Linked DNA regions of Homo sapiens. The protein of the gene in region 1 interacts with the protein of each later gene in a pairwise test. Each region holds a gene or a part of one and is shown in the gene's direction. Other genes may lie near its edges.

Region 1 (3,500 bases):
GAAATAGGCATTAACAACTCAGACGATCAAACTTGTGACTGTGATGCAGGACATGAGGGACATGAGGACATGAGGGAGAACACATTTTAGGGCATTTCATCTATTCTGAGAGGTCAAGGAAGATTTCTGTGGAGAAAAGTGACCCTTAAGCTGATATGACTGACAGTAGAAGGTAACTAGGGTGGTAGAAGAGGTCCCAATATGCAAAGGCCCTTGATGGGAAGCATCACGGTATCCACAAGGATATGAAAGGCTTGGGGGCTGGAGCAGAGAGGGGGAAGGGTAGCATAGTGTGTGTGATAGAGAGGGTGTGATGTGGGGCTGGGTTATGTTTTGAGAAGACCCTTTTGCTGGTGTGCTCAATAGGCATGGAGCCACAGTGGAAGACTGTGAGGAGGCCAAGCCAGTGGTCCCTGCACAGGTAGTGGAGGACTGGTCTAGGATAGTGGTGGGCAATGAGGATTCAGGCTGCACGTCTTCTCCCCAGCACAAGGTTATGTGTGCCCTGGCTGAACCTCACTCAACCAGGGTGTGCCAGGTTGGGGGTTTTTTCCTCCATGGCCTCACCTGTGGCCTCTAGGCTCTATCCTATTGAGAGTGTGCCTTTTTCTTTTTCTTTTTTTTTTTTTTGAGATGAAGTCTTGCTCTGTCGCCAGGCTGGAGTACAGTGGTGCAATCTTGGCTCACTGCAACCTCTGCCTCCTGGATTCAAGTGATTCTCCTGCCTCAGCCTCCCGAGTAGCTGGGACTACAGGCATGTGCCATCACACCCAGCTAATTTTTGTATTTTTAGTAGAGACGGGGTTTCACCATGTTGGCCAGGATCTCTTGACCTTGTCATCCGCCTGCCTCGGCCTCCGAAAGTGCTGGGATTACAGGCGTGAGCCACCACACCCAGCTGAGAATGTGCCTTTTTCAAAGGAGGCTGGGGGAGAAAGAGTATAGAGATTAGTCCAAACTTCTCATCCACAAGGAAGTCTGAAAGTGGATGACAAATAGATCAGGGAACAAGAATTGCATAATCATAAGATAATAATAATAGCTAACATCTCTTGGCTGCTTACTTGTCCTGGCTATTTCATAAACCTGGATTAATTTTCCTTATGAGAAAGGTACCATTATTGTCCCCATTTTACAGATTAAGAGACTGAGGCTAATGGTCATACAACTAGGCAGAGGCTAAGCTAGAATTGGAACCTGGACCTATCTGACTCTAGAGTTTGGGATCTAAATCACTAAGTTATATTACAATTTTAGGAAAAAACTCCCTAAATTCTGTTGTTGCCCTGAGGGTGTTGAATTACTAGGTTGGTCATTTTACAAGGCATCCCTTTATTTGCTGTATTCCCAGGTTTTCTTTTTTTCTTTGAAACACAGTCTCTATTACCCAAGCTGGAGTGTGCAGTGGCGTGACCTTAGCTCACTGCACCCTCTGTCTCCTGGGTTCAAGCGTTTCTCATGCGTCAGCCTCCTGAGTGGCGTGGGATTACAGGCGTGTGCCACCACACTCAGCTAGTTTTTTGTATTTTTATTAGAGATAGGATTTTGCTATGTTGGCCCAGCTGGTCTTGAACTCCTGGCCTCAAGCCTCCCAAAGTGCTGAGATTATGGGCATGAGCCGCTGTACCTGGCTCCAGGGTTTTTTATTGTAATTTTTTCTTTTTTAAACCACACAGTACAAATATATCAATTTTATTTTATACAAAAAAGACCTGAGGTTAATGGCTTAATGTAAGTACTTGAAGCAGTCAGAGTTTAAATCAATATATTTCATTTTATAGAGTTAATTTCTTATTTCTTAGGGGACTTTAGTGTAATTTTCTTTTCTTTTTTTTTTTTTTTTGGAGATAAGGTCTCACTCTTTTGCCCAGGCTGGGGTGCAGTGACATGATTATAGTTCACCGCAGCTTCAACTTCCTGGGCTCAAGCAATCCTCCCATCTCAGCTTCCCATGTAGTTAGGACCACAGGCTTGCACAACCATGCCTGGCTAATTTTTATTTATTTTTTTTTTATAGAGACGAAGTCTCACCATGTTGCCCTGGCTGGAAATTTTCACATTCAAATAAATTTAATGGCTAGGAGCTTTTTCTAAGTTTGATTAATATAATTGTTACATGCTTTACATTCATATAATCTTTCAATGGGTTTTATTTATGATTTTCCATCAAAATTTCTGCTCCTGTTGGATTTTTGTACTTGAAATAGTTTTCAAAACAATTGCTTTTTATGATAAATTAATTTTTTAAAATGTAGGAAAATTGTATTATCACATCATATTTTGAATTTGTAATCAACCCTACATTGATGTGATAACTCTTCAGCCGTAGAGGGATATGTCAGGTAAAATGTTAAATGTGACTACAGGAAGCCAAATCTGGGGTCCTTTGGATTTTTTGACACATTAAAAAATGTGTTACTTTTTTAAAAAACCTCCCATGAGATTCACTCTAAGGAGTCTTCAAGCACGTAGTTTCTGCAAAAGGATCGCTGCAGAGAAAAGAGTTCTTTACCGACCTGGTGGGGCTTTGTTTCTGTGCCTACAGGGCCCGTGACTACTCTGCGCCAGTCAACTTCATCAGCGCAGGGCTCAAGAAAGGGGCAGCGGAGGAGGCAGAGTTGGAAGATTCTGATGACGAAGAGAAACCTGTTAAGCAGGACGACTTTCCTAAGGATTTTGGACCAAGGAAGCTAAAAACGGTAGTCTCTATTGCAGGATTGTGACCCTAGGAATATCCTTCAAAGGTCATTGTGGCCCAAGCATTTTCTAGCCAGGGAGAAACTCATCTGGAATGAATTTCGTGAGTGTCTCCTTTTGGTGGCAGGTTTCTGTGAGTTGTGAAGTGTGTAGTGCAGTCTCTTCCTTCCTGACACGTTATCACACACATTTTTGGTTCATATGACACTTTTCATAGTGCTGTATAACTTAGGCCATTTTCCTGTTGGCCAAGCTTTCTTAGATTTTTCTTCATTTTGTTTTTCCATTAACTAAGCTTTGATTTTTCTTTTTTGCAGGGTGGCAATTTTAAGCCCAGCCAGAAAGGTTTTGCAGGAGGAACCAAATCTTTCATGGACTTCGGCAGCTGGGAAAGACACACAAAAGGAATTGGACAGAAGCTTCTTCAGAAGATGGGCTACGTCCCTGGACGGGGCCTCGGGAAGAATGCACAAGGTATTGCACCTTTGTCGTCTTGCATGATGGAGGAGGGCAGGCATAGGGAAGGAGAGGGGCGTTGGGAGAGGAGGTTTGCTTTTCCCTTTTAAAAGCACTTTATCTCTCCAGCCTGGTTTGCCAGCACAAGACATTTGCGTTCCTAAGCTACCTTGCTTTATCAAAGCTCAAGTTAAATAAGTAATTGTTTCAACAGCAAGGAAAGGGTTAGGGTCTAAAACAGGCTGCAAACAGGTTGAAAACAGGCTTTTTTTCTGGTCCTGACCAGTGCTTCTAAAAACAAAAATGAGGCTGGGTGTGGTGGCTCATACCTGTAATCCCAGCACTTT
Region 2 (3,500 bases), on another chromosome or scaffold:
CTGTGGGTGTCTGTGTGCTGGAGGATTGCCCACAGCTATGATTCAGAGATGCTCATGTTGTTGCCCAAGCAATTGACAGATGATGTTTCAGGCTTGGAGATGGCAGGATGGGAGCAAAGAGAAGCCAGGTCAGGAAAGAACGTGCCGTTCTGGCCCTAGTGGGGAATTCTGGGCCTTCTGGCTCACCCAGTTGAACCTTTCAAACTGTAGGTTATGACCCTTTAGTAACTGTGAAATTAATTTAATGCATCAGGATCAGCATATAAAAAACAAGTTAACTGTAATCTCAGCACTTTGGGAGGCCGAGGTGGGAGAATCACCTGAGGTCAGGAGTTTGAGACCAGCCTGGCCAACATGGTGAAACCCCAATTCCTACTAAAAAAATACAAAAATTAGCTAGGTGTGGTGGCATGTGACTGTAATCCCAGCTACTCGGGAGGCTGAGGCACAAGAATTGCTTGAGCCCAGGAGGGAGAGGTTGCAGTGAGCTGAGATTGCGCCACTGCACTCCAGTGGGGGCGACAGAGTGAGACTCTGTCTCAAAAAACAAGTTAAACAGAATGGAATTCAATAGAAAAGATTAGAATTAATATCGTACATCCTTACAATGAACTATACACATGGCAAGATATTTTAGTTTCAGAGACATACATACTATTTAAGTATGTTCTTCACTACAATGTGAAATATATAGCTTACTGGTGGGTCATCATCCAAACAGTTTGTAGTTGCACTGTTGCGCTTTGTTCTCCTAGAAAATACCTCTAGCCTTTCTTCCCTTCATGGAGGAAAGGTGTTTTTCAGGTGCAGACTGACAGACTTTAGGAAGTTTTTACACGGGGTTATGAAGGAAAGGGATTGCTCTAGGTCTCAGGGAGGTAGGGCTGCTGCAGGGACCCAGACGGGTTTTCAGCGAGGTTGGCAGTAGGTATTCAGCTATATAGAAGTGGAAGTCAAGGACTTTCCAATTCCAGGGGCTCATTTTGATGCTGAAATGGGGGCGGGGCATGAGTCCTAAGTCCAATTTGGCTATGGGACATTATGACTGTGATGCTATGGGCAGGATGATCTGTGGATATTAGATTTTCTTAAAGAGTGGTGTGAAAGAAAGGGTCATATATTGGATATGGGGTCAGAACTGAACTTTAGTTCATCATAATAGCTGTCCTTTGATTACAACTGTGCTTCCAGTGTGACCTTGGGCTCTACCGTGGTTTTCTCTTTTGTAAAATAAGGGTCTTGCCGTTGATTCCAAATGGGAATATTTTGGTAAATGTTCCATGTTTACCTGAAAATAATTCATGTTGAGTGCAGTGATCCGTCTATCTAGTCTGGTTTATTATTCATATTGATCAGATTTTTAAGTGATTTTGGTTTGCTTATTCAATAAGCTATCGAGAGAGGCATTAAAAAGTCTGCTATGATTGTGGATTTACCTACTTTTAGTCTATTGACTTGTGCTTTATATGGTTTGAAGCTATGTTATTTGTTGCCTACAGATTCAGAATTCTTTTTTTTTGTTTGAGACAGAGTCTTGCTCTGTCGCCCAGGCTGGAGTGCAGTGGCACAATCTTGGCTCACTGCAACTTCTGCCTCCTGGGTTCAAGTGATTCTCCTGCCTCAGCCTCCCGAGTAGCTGAGACTACACGTGCGTGATAAGTCTCGATCTCCTGACCTCATGATCCGCCCGCCTCGGCCTCCTAAAGTGCTAGGATTACAGGCGTGAGCCACCGCGCCCGGCCAGATTTAGAATTCTTCTTATATCCTCCTAGGGATTGACCCTTCATTCTTATGTTATGCCTCTTTTCATCTCTGTGAAAGTCCTCATTGTCTGATATTACTATAGCTACATTCCAGCTTTGTTTTGGGTAATGTTTGCATGTTACCTTTTTTTTTTCCCCTGTACTTTCAACTTTTAAAATGTCCTTATGTTTAATGCATATCTATGAGCAGCATATATAGTTGGTTTTTTGTGTGTTTTAAGTGTAGACTGATAATCTTACAATGAGAATATTTAGTCCATTTACATTTAAATGCAATTGTGGATGTATTGGAGTTTATATCTACTACCTTAGTTTTTGTTTGTTTACTATTTGACCTGTCTGTTATGTCCCCCTTTTTCTCACCTGTTTTGCCTTCTTTTAAATTAATCAAGGACTTAAAATTATAGTCATGCGTCTCTCTTTTTTTTTGGAGACAGTCTCGCTCGGTCACCCAGGCTGGAGTGCAGCGGCGTGATCTCGGCTCACAGCAACCTCAGGCAATTCCCATGCCTCAGCCACTCGAATAGCTGGAATTACAGGTGTGTGCTGCCATGCCCGGCTAATTTTTGTAGTTTTAGCGGAGACAGGGTTTTGCCATGTTGGCCAGGCTGTTCTTGAACTCCTGGCCTCAAGTGATCCACCTGCCTCAACCTTCCAAAGTGCTGGGATTAAAGGCATGAGCCACCGCACCTGGCCCTCATGTGTGTCTTAACAAGGATTCAGTCCGAGAAATGTGTCGTTAGGCAGTTTCATCATTGTGTGAACATCATAGAGTGTACTTACACAAACCTAGATGGTATAGCCTGCTACATGCCTAGGCTGTATGGCATAGCCTGTTGCTCCTAGGCTACAAACCTTTACAACATGTTACTGTACTGAATACAGTAGATAACTGTAATACAACGGTATTTGTGTACCTAAACATAGAAAAGGTATAGTAAAAATATGATACAATCTATCACTGTCGTATATGCAGTCCGTTGACTGAAATGTTACATGATGCGTGACCGTGCATGTTCTCTCTTTGTTAGCTCTTATGTTTTACATTCCTTTACGGTTCTTTTGGTGATCACTCTTGAGATTACAGCACGCATCTTGACTTATTACAATATAAAAATAAGTGATTATTTTTACTACTTCTCCAATGATGCTAATACCTTAGAACACTTTTTAGATATTAAGATATATTAAACACCACAAGAATTATTTCTTTGTACAGCCCATATGAATTTAGATTTACCCACATATTTGCCCTTTTTTGTGTTTCTTTCTTCCTGCATTTCTATAATTTTATTTGGTATAATTTTCTTTTTCTCTGAGGAACTCTCCTCTCTCTTACAGTGTAGTCTGTTAATCATGAATTCTTTTAGTTTTTATTTATTTTTTATTGATTTATTTTTTGAGATGAAGTTTTGCTCTTGTCACCCAGGCTGGAGTGCAATGGCGTGATCTCGACTCACTGCAACCTCTGCCTCCCGGGTTCAGGTGATTCTCCTGCCTCAGCCTCCTGAGTAGCTGGGATTACAGGTGCATGCCACCACACCCAGCTAATTTTTGTATTTTTAGCAGAGATGGGGTTTTGCCATGTTGGCCAGGCTGATCTCGAACTCCTGACCTCAGGTGATCCACCCACCTCTGCCTCCCAAAGTGCTGGGATTACAGGCATGAGCCACCACACCCGACCTAGTTTTTATTTTTTTGAAAATGTCATTATAGCTGGGCACGGTGGCTCATGCC
Region 3 (3,500 bases), on another chromosome or scaffold:
TCATACTGTTTGTTCCTTTGACTAGCTGCCCAATATTTCATGATTTATTTAATGTAACCTATTGATGGACATTTTGGTTGTTTTCTGTTTGGGGAAGTGCCATTTTTCACAGTTAAGAAAAAGTCAGAAATTTATCCTAAAAATTCTGCAGAATCAAAAACCACAATGACCCTCGGGGTTTCCACTTGGAAAATTATTACAAACTGTATTTTTGCTTATGAGCTTTATATTGCACTGCCCTGAACTGTGACCTGTTGGAGTTGTTTGCATCTGAAGGAGTGCTTAAAACCCTTTTCTCCCCAGTTCCCAGAGGCACCGACATCACTAAACAGATTATAATTGGCACTCCTGGGACTGTCCTAGATTGGTGTTTTAAACTAAAATTGATTGATTTGACTAAGATTCGTGTGTTTGTCCTGGATGAAGCAGATGTGATGATTGACACTCAAGGATTCTCAGATCATAGTATTCGTATTCAAAGGTAATCTTCAGAGTCTTCCTCTCTTCCTCAGCCTTCTGTCCAGATGGGGAATTTCATTTGTTTACTCCTCCACATTATCTTTATTGCTTAACTCCTCACCACCTTCACCTCTAAAATAAATTTGAGTTTTTACATTATTTTCACCAGTTCAAGGGTCCCTCAGACTGCTATAGTTTTCCAGCTTCTTCAGTTTGTAATCTTGCCTGAGTGCTTTACTTTGCAACACAGCTTACAGATGGACTCTATTAATATATAGTGCATCTGCACCAAATTTGCCAATATGTTCTATATTTTGGCCAAAATTCTAAAGAGGATCTGTTAAAGCCTAGTGAGAATACAATGGATAATTGAGATAGAGTAGAGGACACAGTAATGTGGGATCAGGAGACTGGTAATCTAGTCCTGACTTTCCCCCTAATTTGTAAAAAGCCGTGTCATTTTCCTAGGCCTCTCTATCAGGATCACCTGAGGGATTTAAAACTACAGATTACCGGACGCAGCCTCAGACTTACTGAATGAGAGTTTCTGTAAGTGGGATTTAGGAATCTGTATCACGTATTTTTTAATGAAGTATTACATACTCAATGTTAAATTCAATTAGTATTGAAAGACTTGTAATGAAAAACAGTAACCCCTTGCTCCAACCTGAAGAGAATACTTCTCTTTTCTGATATTAACCTTCATACTTGTAAATAATATTTTCATACTGCTGTTTCCTGATGTATAGTCATTGTCAACTGATTTCCCATTATAGGAAGTGGGAATTGAGTTCTTTGAAAACACCACCCATTCTACCTTTCCTATCCCCCCATTACCTCTCTGTAATTATGTCATGAATTAGGTTACAGTAACTGTCAGTATTGATATCATGTGACAGTGTAAGTATTGTTCACTGCTGAGCCAAACAGCGTATTATTATAATTACAGTTGCCCCTCCGTATCCACAAGGGATTGGTTCCAGGACCCCTTGCACGTGCCAAAATCTGTGGATGTTCAAGTCCCTGATGTAAAATGTTGTAGTATTTGCATGTAACTTATACACATCCTCTTGTGTACTTTAAATCATTTCTAGATTATTTATAATGACAAGAAAAAAGTCCATATACATTCGGTACAAGCACAATTTTTTCCAAATATTTTTGATCCACAGTTGTTTGAATCCACAGATGCAGAGCCCACAGATACAGATGGCACTAATATAAAGGGCTGTTTTTCTTGTAAAGCTTTTTCTTCTAGAAGTAATCATTGCTTTTGCTTTTTTTTTTTCATTTTGTTAGTATCACTGTGTAAGGATCTTTAATTTTCCCTTAGCTATTCTATCGTATGTGTCATATGTCTGTGATATCTCCAAATAGTAAAATAAAATTTAAAAATCCATCCATTTCTCAGCTGGGCACGGTGGCTCACGCCAGTAGTCCCAGCACTTTGGGAGGCCGAGACGGGTGGATCACAAGGCCAGGAGATCGAGACCATCCTGGCTAACACGGTGAAACCCCATCTCTACTAAAAATACAAAAAAATTAGCTGGGCATGGTGGCAGACGCCTGTAGTCCCAGCTACTTGGGAGGCTGAGGCAGGAGAATGGCGTGAACCCGGGAGGCGGAGCTTGCAGTGAGCCGAGATCACGCCACTGCACTACAGCCTGGGTGACAGAGCAAGACTCCATTTCAAAAAAAAAAAAAAAAAACCATCCATTTCTCTTTTTTCCTGCCAATATTCCAAGCTCCCTCTCTCCAGCTTCAGTCTGGTAGATCTGCTGTACAGCTGTCATCATGGGTCTTTCCTTTGCTCACTTAAGTTTTAAATCTCCTATATCTTGGGTCGTTTTTCTTGGAGTACTTCCTCAGTATGCTGGAGTATATTTTCTAATGCCTTCCTGAAAAACAATATAAAAGAGATTCATTTTTCAGCCCTTACATGTCTGAAGATGTCCTTATTGTACCTGTAAATTTGATCTTTTGACTAATAGTTTGCCCGGATAGGAATCCTGTGTCATTCTCTCTCTAAATTCAGAGAAATGTTGAAAACAGAAAAGTTTTTAAAAATAACTTCAATATATAATTAATATCCTCAGCTTCCACTGTTGTTACTGAAAAGTTTAATGTCACCCTGATCTCCAAGCTTTTGTTTATGACCTTTTTTTTTTCTCTCGCGAGAAGCCTTTGGAGTCTTCTTTCTTTATGGTATTCTGAAACTTTTCAGTGACATACTTTGGTTCAGGTCTTTTTTCATTCATCATACTAGACACATACTGCACCCTTTCATTCTCAAAACCTGGGCCTGCCACTTCTGGGAAAATTTCTTCAGTTATCTCTTTCCCCAAAGTGACCAACTTTTTAGAGAGCCCATCTGGGACACAATCATAACAATCCAAAAAAAAAAATGATATAAAATAGAAGAAATAATCATACACAGGGTTATTATTTTGTTGTGTGTTTCCTTCCATTTGTCATTAAAATAACACAGTCATTGAGCATTCCGTTTCTGTCTGTCTCAATCACACTGGTGGTGGTCTCTGATTTTTTTTTATAGAGCTTCCTCTTCTTGCATTACAGATGCAGTATCTTCAGTTGTCTCTCTGAGAACATTAATTCTAGTATTTAAAAATTTTTTCTGTTTTAACATTGTGAATTATCCAAGTTTCCTTTTTGTTTGCTACAGCCTCTTTCACAGCAGAACGTTCCTCTTTATATGTGGTGACACTTGGCTAGCCTTTCATGATCTAGGGTGAGAAGCTACAATTCCAACGGACAGCTCTGTGTGCATGGCTGGGGCTGCCACTTGGGAAGTCCTACTGTGTGACGATTGTCATCTGGAGGTCTTTAGGACTATGTAATGTCTCTGTTCTCTTTTCTGGGGGATAGACCCTTGGTTGCTGACATTCTGGGAGCAAGGCAGGGGAACAGGCTGAGAGGGCCGTCCCATTCGGTATGCATATTTTCACTTGATCTCCTCTTTTCAGCCATATGTTTTGCCTCCACTTTCTACTAAGGCTTGTATCCCCAAATCTGGAATTTCT
Region 4 (3,500 bases), on another chromosome or scaffold:
ACTCCAGCCTGGGGGACAGAGTAAGACTCTGTCTCAAAACAAAACAAAACAAAACAAAAAAAAACCTATCACGTGTTACTGTAAGTAACATTTTTATGAACAATAACTATTTTCTAAAACAAAATTTTAATGAGGAATGTCTTTGTTTTACATTTTTGCAAATCTCTTTAATGCCCCGCTTAATCGATAACAGCTAGAAGATTCTCATATCTTTTTTCTGCGTTAAATCTATCATGAGTTGTTGTTGTAATTGAAGCAAATCTGACCACACAGATAGGTAGTTGGAAAGGAAGGAGTTTGTTTTGTGAATGTTCTACCTTTGATACTACACCCAAACTGAACAAGTGGTAGTCAGTCAAAGATTATTTGCCATCTGGAATCTGAAACGGTAACAGTAAACTTTTCGTACTCTTGTTAGGTGAAAATTCATTAATCTGCCTTGCACCTCAAATGGATCTCTTACTCATGCATGATTTGGTTACATCAGGCACTGGTTCTTTAGAAAATAGTAGTTCACTGGGCTATGCAGATTCATTTTATTTCTTCAGTGTTTAAAAAAAATCACATTTATTAGTTATCACCAGTGATCTTGTCAGAAAGGTCTTTTTTTTTTTTTAAAGACAGTCTGACTGTGTCACCCAGGCTGGAGTGCAATGTCAGTCTCAGCTCACTGCAGCCTCCGCCTCCCAGGTTCAAGCAATTCTCGTGCCTCAGCCTCCAAAGTAGCTGGGATTACAGGCATGTGCCACCACGCCCAGCTAATTTTTGTGTTTTTAGTAAAGACAGGTTTCACCATGTTGGCCAGGCTGGTCTCGAACTCCTGGCCTCCCAAAGTGCTGGAATTACAGGTGGGAGCCACTATGCCAGGCCGTAGCAGAAAGAAAGGTCTTTAAGATTTGGAAAGACAGTTTCTGACCCTGCCAGGGCATAGTGGTTAAAATGTGGGCTCAGAGTACAAGACTACATGGATTCAAATTTTGACTCCCTTGCTTACCACCTTTTTAATTGAGCCAGCTCACCTAACCTGTCTGTGGATATGTTTCCTTGTCTGTAAAATGGGAGTAATGATAGGACCCACTTCATACAACTGTGGAGGATTCATTGAGGGCTACATGAAAAGCCTTCAGATAGTGACAGGCACGTTGTCACTGTTAAACTGTTAGCCTTCACTGGATTTTGTAGTTCTGCTTTATCCTGGCTTTCCTCCTCTCTCTGACCACACCTGACTCCTTTGCTAGTGTTCTTTCTCCTTCTGAGTGTAAACATTTAGCATTTTTTTCTTTTTTTAAAATTTTTACTTATTTATTTATGTATTTTTGCTGGCTTATTTCTCCAAGAAAGAATAGCATTTTTTAAAATCTGCATTTTTTCCCCTTTAGGAATTTCATTTATTAACTATTGTTTAGTGGTTATTGTTTTCTTAACATGGACACAATCATAAGTACTAAGATGCACTTTTTCTTAAATTTTAGCATCTTAAAAATCTGATTGCATCTTACAGGTGATGTGATAAAAAAAGAATTGTGTCATAGTTTAATTGGCAAAATTTATCCTTTTTCAGCTCAACTAAGCTTACAAATGATACCTTAAATGTGATAAAATATGGAATATGTGGCTTTAATATTCTGCTTTATTCATGTAACATCATTAACATAAGAATTTTACCATGAGAGTAGACTCTTCATAAGCATTTTAATGCTCTTGTCTTGAATTCTGCTTGTGACAGAAATGACTCTTCAACTGTGGTGTCTATTACAGAGAAGGGAACACTGCCACTTACTCCATGTTTGCAGTGAACTAACAGCAGGGTCCACCTGTGTCATCCCTAGTAGTCTGCTCCAAGTGCGGTTCCTCCTGACACTGTTTGAAGGTGCTATGTGTCTGTGCACATGTGCATTTCTCTGGGTGGGGTGTCTGTAACAGAGTCTCAGTAGTTACTGACCTCCATTAAGATTAATTGCTGCCTTGAAAGGCTACTGGGGCTGGTTAGCTCCTGAACGCTGCGTGCTGCGTGCATGTGGCCTCTCTTGCGCCTAGAGTTGCAGCTGAGAACAGTAAGCAAAGTCTATTTAGTTAATGAGTTCTTTTTCACATTGCCATGATGTATTGGGTAAAACATTTAAAATTGAATCTTTGGATGACTGAGAATACTTTAGTGTGTAAATGTGTATTAACTATAGACATAGAAAGCAAAGACAGTGATATTATAGAGAGTGTCTGCATCTGGTTCAGTGCCATGGAGAACAACTACTTCACTCTCCTGTGCGCTCTTGTTACTCCTCTCCAAGATGGGAAACCAGACTAAATGGTTTCTTACCTTGGCCCATTTTACATTTCGCTCTCTCTCTCGTCTATTGAAATAACTAATGAACATCAACGTTTTACCACCAAAACAGTATGGGGGACCCATAAACCATCAGGTTGTTGGGTTTTTTTCCCCCTATAACTTACATAATTGACTTCTAAATAATTAATTTGGCTGCTGACTTATAAATGGGAAGGTGGAAAGCAGTCAGTCTTACTCTTCTGATTCTTGGTCCTCCATAATTGGAGTTTCCATTTTACAGATTGTGAACAGTCTGTGTTATTTGACCCAGACTACTTTTTCGGCTGTCCATCATGTGTACTACCTTCCTTCACCAAACACCTCGTAGTTTGGCTCACCAGACAGTTTCTCTTGGGGACGTTGTGCCCTTTTGTAACTAAGCCCTCTGCTCCCTCTGCTTGCCCGAAGGCCTTCTACAGCATCAGATGGCTCTTCTAGACCTTTCTGTAGATTAGCACTGTAATAATAGAACTGTCTGCAGCAGTGAAAATTTCTATCTATGCTGTCATTACAGGAGCTATGAGCCACATGTGGCTATTTGGCACTTCAAATGGATGCTGGTGTGATTAAGGAACTGCACATTTAATTTTATTTAATTTTAATTTAATGAGCCACCTGTGACTAGTGGCACTCATATTAGAGCAGCTCTAGACCTGCTCCCTCATACATAACTAACTCTTTATGGTCCATGCTGAGACCATATGGTCCATATCACCGTATAGTACTTAACACATATTTCTTTTCTTACTCATTTTAAATTGCTTCCATTTTAATTTAACTTTTTGAATAGATACTAGACTCACACAGTCTTAAAATTACAAAATGCAGAAAGGAACACAGTGCAGTAAAATGTCTTCCACTCCAGCCTCTGTTCATCATCTTTACACCCCACCCCCAGACATAAGCACTATTACTGGTTTCTTGAGAATCTTCTCGTGTCTTTATGCATATGCTAATGAGTGTTAGTTATTCTCCCTTCCCCTGTTTTTTTATCACAGTGCTCTTTCCCTTTCATACATAGCTTCCTTGTGCTTTCGTTTTTAGCTTTATGGTACTTCACTGTGTAGATGTACCATAATTTAACTGTTTTCCTGTTGATGGACAGATAGCCATTTCCAATATTTTGCTAGTAAAACCTATTCTGCTGTAAATAATTTTATCTTTATCTTTTTTT
Region 5 (3,500 bases), on another chromosome or scaffold:
TTGACTTTGGTGCTTTACCAACGTGAGATGTTAAATTTTTGTCTGATTTTCTTTCTTCCTGCCTACACATGTTATTTCTCTGGTTAAACCTGCAGAGCACTCTTTGTTACGTGAGTGTTTCCTGTTGAGGAAAATTCTGGAAGTTAGAAAATGAGTAGGCCTTAGTTCACTTGTGAACTCATATCAAGGTGAGAAGAAAGTGAAGTAACTATACTAAACTTTTTTCTTCACTGTCACTAAGGCTACTCTTCCATCTCTAGTAATGCTACATTGTAACCAGTGTCTCTGCGTCTTCTGTAGAGGATTGAGTTGACCACAGGTTTTAATTGCATTTTAAAGTGAATAAGAAGTTTTAGGTTTGTTCTGTTCGTTATGACCTGATTTGTGTACTCTGTAAACATAGGGGTGTTGTGGTTGTTTGAGAAGGTATTTTAGTATTGAGAGGTTCTGATTAGGCCCCTTTGCGAGTAAAGCTTAGTTACCTTGTTATATCAGGCAAGCAATTTTTTTTTTTTTTTTTTTTGAGGCAGGGTCTCGTTCTGTCGCCCATGCTGGAGTGCAGTGGTGCTATCTCAGCTCATTGCAGTCTCCGCCTCCCAGGTTCAAGCGATTCTCGTGCCTCAGCCGCCTGGGTAGCAGGGACTACAGGCATGTGCCATTGGGACTACAGGCGTGTGCCACCATGCCCAGCTAAGTTTTGTATTTTTAGTAGAGACGGGGGTTTCACCATGTTGGCCAGGCTGGTCTCGAACTCCTGACCTCAAGTGATCCACCTGCCTCGGCCTCCCAGAAGTGCCGGAATTACAGGCATGAACCACTACGCTTAGCCTAGACAAGCAATTTTTAAAATGTGCTATAAAACACCAAACTAATCCACACTGGATTTTCTAAACATAGTAAACGCCATGTTTAAAGAGTAATGCGTATTCCTTTTATGTTTTTTCAGCTTGTGGGGAGATGGGTAGGGGCTATTTTTTTCTTCTTGGTGAGTCCATTAAGACACAGAAATAAGCGACTTTCTTGCTAGATAGATGTATATAGTTTTATTGTCCCTCTCCACCCCCCAACAAAGGACCTCTCCGTTCCATTCCTTGAGTTTAGAGGGGAGGGACTAGGGTAAACTGAATAAGTGGTTGTCTGTTGATTGCCCCAGAGTAAATCTTATTGAGTGGTTTAGAGATTTTGTTTCTTTTTCATTTTAGAGACGAGGTCTCGGGGTCTCGCTGTGATTCCCAGGTTGGCGTGCACAGATGTAATCATTGTGCGCTACAGTTTAGAGTGCCTGAACTCCGGGGCTCAAGTGATCTTCCTGCCTTAGCCTCCTGAGTAGGTTGAGCAACGGGAGCATATAACCTTGCTTGTCTTTTTTTTTTTTTTTTTTTTTTTTTTTTTTTTTTTGAGACAATCTTTGCTCTGTTGCCCAGGCTGGAGTGCAGTGGCGCGATCTTGGCTCACTGCAACCTCCACCCCTAGGGTTCTAGCGATTCTCCTACCTCAGCCTCCTGCGTAGCTGGCATTACAGGTGCCCACCACCACGCCTGGCTAATTTTTTTCTATTTTTAGTATAGATGGGGTTTTGCCATGTTGGCCAGGCTGGTGTTGAACTCCGGACCTCAGGTGATCCACCCACCTCAGCCTCCCAAAGTGCTAGGATTATAAGCGTGAGCCACCGGGCCTGGCCCCTTGCTTGTCTTATTTAGAGTTTTAAAGCAGCTTTCGTTGTACTCTTTCTTCATTTTAAATGTTCCTGCCTTGAGTGATTTGATTAGTCTATGTCTTGGGAAGCGTATTTTACCTTAGTGCCTCTTTACTTACTTACCTTAAGAAAGGAGTACAGGGCAGGTTCTTAAGTAAAATGGCCCCAGACACCTGGCTTGCCTACTGTGTCAGTGCAAAGAACACTTGGATCATGTCTTTTTCCTAAAATTGGACTTCATAACTGTTTCTTGGAAGTCTGTTTTAAGACTTTTTTAGTTCTCATGTTGCTTCTGAAGATGTATGTTTAAATTACAGTTTCTATGCTGATAAGTTGCGTATATACCTCTGGGCATACTAAAAGTTGTGCAGAACAATAGTTTATATGACAAGATAAGTTTCCCTCATCAGTACTTCCCATTCCCTGAAATGTGAGATCAAAACTCAGTTGAACCACACTATGGCTGTAGAAGACAGTATGAATTAGAAAAGACAAATATCCACTGTACTAGAGTTCACCAGCGTTTGAAGGCTATCAGAAGATATAGGAGGTAAGTGATATCCTTGGGTGTCACTTGCAGATTGAGGGGAGGATTGTGGGTCATAGGAGATGACTAGTATGGCAGGGGGTAACTATTATTATTTGTTTCTTTTTTAAGCCATGTGCCTTTTAGGATGTAGAACAAAATACATAGGAGAAAATAAGCCAAAAGGTGTGATTTACCAAAATACTTGGACTCCAAAAAGAGCTGCAATATATATTTTTTTTTATTAAGCATTTTCTTGTCTTTGGTAGAATAAAGGTAAAGCTAAAATAGAGTGCGGAAACTGACTTGACCAAAGTAGAAAACACAGCTCATGTTTATGAATCAAAAACAAATGAGTTTGGGCAGTCTGAAAGAAAAAAATCAAACATTTTATATGAAGATTTTAAACCTTTATGCAAAGAGTCCCTTTAAGGTGGAAGAGACCTTTTAAATAGAGTAGACCTTCCCCATTTAGTAGCACAATGCGGCAAAATAGTTGTTTAATAAATGTTACTTTCTGCAAGCCTTGCTTTTCCAAGATTTTAAGCTGCTTCCACAGTGTTAACATTTGAAAGCCCTCTACCAGGAAATTATTTAGCTGTGTATTTTATTGTTGCTGACTGTGAACTTACCCTTTTTTTTCCTGGCTGTAATTTTTTTAGAATTAAAGTTTCTTTCCAAGATTTTGAGGGTCAGGAAATGCAAAGTGGAGGTAGATTGAGTGCAGTTTTATCTAAATGTTATTTTAAAAACTCTGGTTCTTGTAACCTGAACCAGGAATCCAAAATGAGATCTTACTCTGAATTTTAATTACAGCAGATTCTGCTCTTATTTGGAAAAAGTTGCTTGAGTGACATCAAACTTAATGGAGTCCCTCACCTTTTAATTCCTTTTTAAAAAGGGGAGAGCTTAAGGTTAGACTTGGTTAAATTCAGTTGGAAGGTAAGTATTAGGGAATAAAAAAGAGGAATAACAATTTTGTTGTTAGGATGTTAAACCAAAAATTGCTAAGAACTCATATCTAGACTTTCCTCTTGCTGCTTGTTATTTGGCCTTTGTGACTGTTTGTTAGCACCTCCACCAGAGGGTGTGAAGGGAAAGAGGCTCAAAGCTAAGTACTGTAGCTAGTTTCTGGTTTCTAGTATAGGAGAGACACTTCATAGAAATACCAGCCTGGGCTGGGTGTGGTGGCTCATGCCTGTAATCCCAGCACCTTGGGAGGCCGAGGCGGATCACCTGAGGTCAGGAGTTTGAGACCAGCCTGGCTTAACATGGTGA
Region 6 (3,500 bases), on another chromosome or scaffold:
GCTGGGATTACAGACGTACATCACGAGGTCTGCCTAATTTTTTTGTATTTTTTTAGTAGAGACAGGGTTTCACCATGTTGGCCAGACTAGTCTCGAACTCCAGACCTCAAATGATCTGCCCGCCTTGGCCTCCCAAAGTGCTGGGATTTCAGGCAACAGCCGTCGCGCCTGGCCTTTGCCCATTTTTTGAGTTATTTGCTTTCTTGTTACTGAGTTACTTGAGTTCACATATTTTGGATATTAACCCCTTTTCAGATGTATGGTTTGCAAATATTTTCTCCCATTCTGTATGTCATCTCTGTTGATTGTTGCCATTGCTGTGCAGAAGCTTTTCAGTTTGATGCAACTTCATTTGTCTATTTTAGCTTTTGTTGCCTGTGCTTTCTGGGTCATAGCCAAAAAACCATTGCCCAGACAAGTGTCGTTAAGCTTTCTTTTGTGTGTGTGTGTGTGTGTGGTGTGTGTGTGTGTATGTGTCTGTGTGTGTGTGGCAGAGTCTCAATCTGTCACCCAGGCTGGAATGCAGTGGCTCAATCATGGCTCACTGCAGTCTTGACTTCCTGGGCTCAGGTGATTCTCCCACCTTAACCTCCCGAGTAGCTAGGACTACAGGTCTGGTCCACCATGCCTGGCTAATTTTTTGTATGTTCAGTACAGATGGGGTTTAAGGCTGAAGAATGCCATTGTATATATAGACCACCTTTTATACACAATATATACACAATATATACCATTGTGTATATATACCATGTTGCTCAAGCTGGTCTCAAACTCCTGGGCTCAAGCGATCCACCTGCATCAGCCCCAAAGTGCTGGGGTTACAGGTGTGAGCCACCATGCCTGGCCTTTTTTTTTGGCTCAAGATTGCTTTTGCTGTTTGGAGTATTTTGTGGTTCTATATTAATTTAAAATTGTTTTTTCTATTTCTGTGAAAAATGTCATTGGAATTTTGATAGGCTTGCATTGAATCTGTAAATTGCTTTGGATAATATGGACATTTTAACAATATTAATTCTTCCAAAGCACCCTTCATTTCTTTTTTCTTTCTTTCTTTTTTTTTTTTTTTTTGAGATGGAGTTTTGCTCTTGTTGCCCAGGCTGGAGTACAATGGCGTGGTCTCGGCTCACTACAACCTCTGCTTCCCTGGTTCAAACAATTCTCCCACCTCAGCCTACTGAGTGGCTGGGATTACAGGCATATGCCACCACGCCTGGCTAATTTTGGCATTTTTAGTAGAAACAGGGTTTCACCATGATGACCAAGCTGGTCTCAAACTCCTGACCTCAGGTGATCCGCCTGCCTCCACCTCCCAAAGTGCTGGGATTACAGGCATGAACCACCGTGCCTGGCCTGGAAGCAGGAGACTTCTAGAAAGAGTAGGGAAAGGCCTTGAGCTGGGACCGAGGGCTGAGCCTCCAGGGCAGTCTCTGTCATGGACTTCCATGACAAACCCTACTCCCAGGACACTGGCTCTGGACACTGCAGCCCCTCCCCACAGGCTTCCATATTCCCTTATCCAGCCCCTGGCCCTCCGTGAGGCTCCTGCTGCCCGTGAACCTCTCATTCCCCTTCCCTTTCTCACCCAAGGAGCCTGCTGCAGGCCTGGGAGCGGCAGCGGCAGGAGGAGCGGCAGCAGGCCGAGCTGCGGCGGGCCCGGACACAGCATGTACAGCGGCAGGTGGCCCACTGCCTGGCAGCCTACGCACCCAGAGGGAGCCGGGGCCCTGGGGCGGCCCAGCGCAAGCTGGAGGAGCTGAGGTAGGGAGCCTGGGCTTCGGGAGGCCTGGTTGGGAGAGGGCAGGGAGGCCGTGTCAGGTCTCAGTCTACAGGACCGAGGAGCACCAGCCCTCGCCTTCCCTGGGGCTAACCAGGCCACTTCACCGCGTTTCCAGATAAGGACGCTGAGGCATGGGGAGAAGGGGTCTGTCGAAGGCCACCCAGTTAATAATGACAATCTCTGCAGCTGTTGAATGGTCAAGGTTAAAATATTCTACATGTATGATCACACTTTCAAATCTTCATTTTCTGATTTCCAATGCCAGACATGCTTGTTATAAAATTTCAAAGATTACAGAAATAATGCCTGGAGAAGGTGAACAGCCGTGTGACCCCACTCTGGGAGACAACCATTGTTCACAGTCAGCTGAAGAGTCGCGTTTTGTTCTCTTCCTATATTGTGACCATTTTCCTTTTTTTTTTTTTTTGAGACGGAGTCTCGCTCTGTCGCCCAGGCTGGAGTGCAGTGGCGCGATCTCGGCTCACTGCAATCTCCGCCTCCCAGCTTCACGCCATTCTCCTGCCTCAGTCTCCCGAGTAGCTGAGACTACAGGCGCCCGCCACCACGCCCGGCTAATTTTTTTTTTTTTTTGTATTTTTAGTAGAGACGGGGTTTCACCGTGTTAGCCAGGATAGTCTCGATCTCCTGACCTCGTGATCCACCCGCCTCAGCCTCCCAAAGTGCTGGGATTACAGGTGTGAGACACTGCACCTGGCCGTGACCATTTTCCTAATAAGCAGATTTGTGGGCAAACGTTTTTGGACTCCTAACAGGTCCGTGAAGCAGGGAGTATTGCTGCTGGTGGGCCAGGTCAGGTTCTTCCCTTGGCCGCACAAAAGAAAAAGTTTATTGCAAAGCAAAGGCCACCCTGACCAACATGGTGAAACCTCATCTCTACTAAAAATACAAAAAGTAGCCAGGTGCGGTGGCACATACCTGTAATCCTAGCTATTCGGGAGGCTGAGGCAGGAGAATTGCTTGAACCCGGGAGATGGAGGTTGCAGTGAGCCGAAATTGAGCCACTACACTCCAGCCTGGGCGACAGAGCAAAAACTCCATCTCAAAAAAAAAAAAAAAAGCCCACCCTGAGGACTGCTCAGAGGGAGAGACGGCAGCTTGTGCCTTAAGAGGAATTCCTTTTATGGAAGTTGTTTATACCTAGTCACAAAATACTGGTGAGGTCAGGTATGCAAAGGTGGACCTGTGGTGGGCGCATGCGCTCAGCATCTGCATGCTCCAACACGCATCACATGTAACATTAGCATATACAATCTCTACCTAGGGGTGTGTTTTTTTACCATCAAAACGAGGAAAATGTTGCTATAAGCTAAACCTTGAGCCTAGCTGTGTATGCGGAACCCCGAGAAGTCCTTAGCTCCCTCCAAGGCAGGAATTTGTAGCTAATAGCTTCTTGGGCTTTTGGTGCTGATTGGCTGGAGATCGGGGAAGCTACATTATGAATAAGGGGCTTTTGTTTTTTTTTTCCTGGGCTGTGCTAGGTATGAGGGAACTTGTAGCCATCTGGTATCCCCTAAGACTGCTTATCTTGCAAAAGAGTTAGGTACTCGGCTGTACGCCGTGGCTCACACCTGTAATCCCAACACTTTGGGAAGCCGAGGTAAGTGGATCACCTGAGGTCAGGATTTCGAGACCAGCCTGGCCAACGTAATGAAACCCCGTCTATACTAAAAAATATATATACAAAAATTAGCTGGGCGTAGTG
Region 7 (2,929 bases), on another chromosome or scaffold:
CAAAGCCAAACAATGAAAAGAACGAGCTCTTAGGGCACTCTGCCATTTTGACATTAGTAATACGCAGATCGGGTGGCTTTCCAACCCCAGAGAGCAGAGAAACACACGATAATGATGCATTAGGAAAGCAAGTCGGAGTCCTTGGCAGCTTCTCCTTTCCTAGATCAAACCTTTTCTATCTTCGATGTACATTTCCATCAGGAAAAAAAACACGCTGCGCTCCAGCGAGTCACAACATTCATCACAGGCTGGTTGCTAGCTAAGGAAATTCGTAAGCACCAAACTCATAATACCAAGGACCTCCATTTGACCTTTCCTACACAACTCAGAGCCTCTCTTTTCAGTTAGTTGTTTATACAGACACCAAGTATGAGTCTTGCATTTAAAACTTCATAGTACAAAAAACTCCACCCACATTGCACAGTGCTTTTCCAAATCAATAGCTTTGTGGCCATGATAAGGTTGGTACCACTTCACTCCGTGTCCTCAGTGAGGAAACTGAGGCACAGAATGGCAAGTGACTGAGCATCAGCACAATGAGTCAGTGCCTTATTCCTGCTCTGTCTCACTTTAAGACATCAAGTTGCTCATCTGAATTTTTTTTTTCTTTTGAAACGGAGTCTCGCTCTGTCGCCCAGGCTGGAGTGCAGTGGTGCAATCTCGGCTCACCGCAACCTCCGCCTCCCAGGTTCAAGCAATTCTCCTGCCTCAGCCTCCTGAGTAGCTGGGATTACAGGCATGTGCCACCACGCCCCCCTAATTTTTGTATTTTTAGTAGAGACGGGGTTTCACCATGTTGGTCAGGGTGGTCTGGAACTCCTGGCCTCATGATCCACCTGCCTCGGTCTCCCAAACTACTGGGATTACAGATGTGAGCCACCGCACCTGGCCCTGAAATCTTAAAGGGAGATAGGTACTGTAAGGTCCTCTAAAGAGTGTCTTGAGACTGGGCTTTGGGGTTCTATCTTGAAGAAGGGGAGTCCCAGGAGACAAATGTGTGCAGGGCTCTCCTGGGGCCTGGGGGTGGAGAGGAACTAGGAGGGATGGGGAATGTCAGTGCTGTGCAGCCTGGGCCTCAGGTGTCCCCTACCCTCCTGCACCATCCTGCACATGGAGCAAATCTGTTGGCTCCTGAGACCATCTAAACTATGGGACAGGCGCTGGGGACTGCAGAACCACCTGCTGGGTGCTGGGCTGAAGGAAAGGTGTTAAAGTCTTGAAGAAGTAACAAGCCTGTCTTGAGGGGGGTTGGGGTCTGCTAGGGCTCTGCCCAATGTGGCCCCAGATGGACTCCCAGCCCCTGGTATAGCCCAGCCTGGACTTGGTCAGGCTGAGTGTGCGATGGACCCTGTTACAGAAACCAGCCCTGAGCAAAGGGGTTCTGAGGTCCATACCAAGAAGACGGTGATGATCAAGACCATCGAGACACGGGATGGGGAGGTAAGTGGTCTGTCTGGGCTCCTTACCCTTGGTGGGGGCTATGGATGTGTCTGGGGGGACTGTCTTCCACCCAGCTGTGCTGGTCTAGGTCCCTGGCTAGTGGGGCAAGAGAGATCCTGCGGCCCTGGGGTGGGGATGGCTCAGGGCTGAGGCTCCATTCTCTGGCTAGCACATGGTTGGACTGGGCTTCTCTTCCTCCCCAGGTCGTCAGTGAGGCCACACAGCAGCAGCATGAAGTGCTCTAAAGACAGAGACCCTCTGCCACCAGAGACCGTCCTCACCCCTGTCCTCACTGCTCCCTGAAGCCAGCCTTCTTCCATCCCAGGACACCACACCCAGCCTCAGTCCTCCCCTCACAGCCTCTGACCCCTCCTCACTGGCCATCCCTCGTGGTCCCCAACAGCGACATAGCCCATCCCTGCCTGGTCACAGGGCATGCCCCGGCCACCTCTGCGGACCCCAGCTGTGAGCCTTGGCTGTTGGCAGTGAGTGAGCCTGGCTCTTGTGCTGGATGGAGCCCAGGCGGGAGCGGTGGCCCTGTCCCTCCCACCTCTGTGACCTCAGGCACTAGCCTTTGGCTCTGGAGACAGCCCCAGAGCAGGGTGTTGGGATACTGCAGGGCCAGGACTGAGCCCCGCAGACCTCCCCAGCCCCTAGCCCAGGAGAGAGAAAGCCAGGCAGGTAGCCAGGGGGACTAGCCCCTGTGGAGACTGGGGGGCTTGAAATTGTCCCCGTGGTCTCTTACTTTCCTTTCCCCAGCCCAGGGTGGACTTAGAAAGCAGGGGCTACAAGAGGGAATCCCCGAAGGTGCTGGAGGTGGGAGCAGGAGATTGAGAAGGAGAGAAAGTGGGTGAGATGCTGGAGAAGAGAGGAGAGGAGAGAGGCAGAGAGCGGTCTCAGGCTGGTGGGAGGGGCGCCCACCTCCCCACGCCCTCCCCTCCCCTGCTGCAGGGGCTCTGGAGAGAAACAATAAAGAGATTCACACACAAGCCAAGCTGGCCCCTGTTGTCTTGACTGCCAGGTCTCCTGTGGGGCCCCTGGGGCCCTGTGATACAACCTGTCACCCTGAGATGGACTATACTGACCTTCTACCCAGCCAGACTTTCCCCAGGGCCTCGCGCCCACTTCTGTTCCCAGAGCCACCTGGCCTTGATGTCTGTATGCAGTGTATGGGGCAGGGAGGGCTGGACAGGGCTTTTGTTGGGGAACCACAAATACCTCTCGTTAGGCCCCAGTTCCAGGACTGCACCCCTTGTGCTCTCTACTACACCTTCAGGTCAGCCAGGCTGGGGGACACCACCTGCTATTCCTTTTGAAGGATGTAGCTGCTCCCCACTGACTGGCTCTGAAGTAGGGCTCCCCCAGTCCCTTCTTCAAAGATGCCAACAGCCCCTTTTTTTTCTCTCTCTCTTTTTTTCTTTTTGAGATGGAGTCTTGCTGTGTCACCCAGGCTGGAGTGCAGCAGTGTGATCACGGCTTACTGCAGCCT

What was found.
Region 2: the proteins of TFIP11 (region 1) and COQ8A interact in binary tests that used the Homo sapiens proteins (3 or more experiments, as listed by UniProt).
Region 3: the proteins of TFIP11 (region 1) and DDX25 interact in binary tests that used the Homo sapiens proteins (3 or more experiments, as listed by UniProt).
Region 4: the proteins of TFIP11 (region 1) and LSM3 interact in binary tests that used the Homo sapiens proteins (3 or more experiments, as listed by UniProt).
Region 5: the proteins of TFIP11 (region 1) and KANSL1 interact in binary tests that used the Homo sapiens proteins (3 or more experiments, as listed by UniProt).
Region 6: the proteins of TFIP11 (region 1) and TSGA10IP interact in binary tests that used the Homo sapiens proteins (3 or more experiments, as listed by UniProt).
Region 7: the proteins of TFIP11 (region 1) and DES interact in binary tests that used the Homo sapiens proteins (3 or more experiments, as listed by UniProt).

The regions. Positions count from the first base shown.
Region 1 is NC_000022.11:26,505,974-26,509,473, reverse strand, and holds part of TFIP11 (tuftelin-interacting protein 11), read left to right. Parts: intron 1-2,545; coding exon 2,546-2,699; intron 2,700-3,014; coding exon 3,015-3,171; intron 3,172-3,500. UniProt on the Homo sapiens protein: Involved in pre-mRNA splicing, specifically in spliceosome disassembly during late-stage splicing events. Intron turnover seems to proceed through reactions in two lariat-intron associated complexes termed Intron Large (IL) and Intron Small (IS).
Region 2 is NC_000001.11:226,967,794-226,971,293, forward strand, and holds part of COQ8A (atypical kinase COQ8A, mitochondrial), read left to right. Parts: intron 1-3,500. UniProt on the Homo sapiens protein: Atypical kinase involved in the biosynthesis of coenzyme Q, also named ubiquinone, an essential lipid-soluble electron transporter for aerobic cellular respiration.
Region 3 is NC_000011.10:125,911,008-125,914,507, forward strand, and holds part of DDX25 (ATP-dependent RNA helicase DDX25), read left to right. Parts: intron 1-303; coding exon 304-481; intron 482-3,500. UniProt on the Homo sapiens protein: ATP-dependent RNA helicase. Required for mRNA export and translation regulation during spermatid development.
Region 4 is NC_000003.12:14,185,317-14,188,816, forward strand, and holds part of LSM3 (U6 snRNA-associated Sm-like protein LSm3), read left to right. Parts: intron 1-3,500. UniProt on the Homo sapiens protein: Plays a role in pre-mRNA splicing as component of the U4/U6-U5 tri-snRNP complex that is involved in spliceosome assembly, and as component of the precatalytic spliceosome (spliceosome B complex).
Region 5 is NC_000017.11:46,186,930-46,190,429, reverse strand, and holds part of KANSL1 (KAT8 regulatory NSL complex subunit 1), read left to right. Parts: intron 1-3,500. UniProt on the Homo sapiens protein: Non-catalytic component of the NSL histone acetyltransferase complex, a multiprotein complex that mediates histone H4 acetylation at 'Lys-5'- and 'Lys-8' (H4K5ac and H4K8ac) at transcription start sites and promotes transcription initiation.
Region 6 is NC_000011.10:65,951,980-65,955,479, forward strand, and holds part of TSGA10IP (testis-specific protein 10-interacting protein), read left to right. Parts: intron 1-1,587; coding exon 1,588-1,758; intron 1,759-3,500.
Region 7 is NC_000002.12:219,424,306-219,427,234, forward strand, and holds the end of DES (desmin), read left to right. Parts: intron 1-1,357; coding exon 1,358-1,440; intron 1,441-1,643; coding exon 1,644-1,685; 3' UTR 1,686-2,247; coding exon of another isoform or gene 2,248-2,274; 3' UTR 2,275-2,429; downstream 2,430-2,929. UniProt on the Homo sapiens protein: Muscle-specific type III intermediate filament essential for proper muscular structure and function.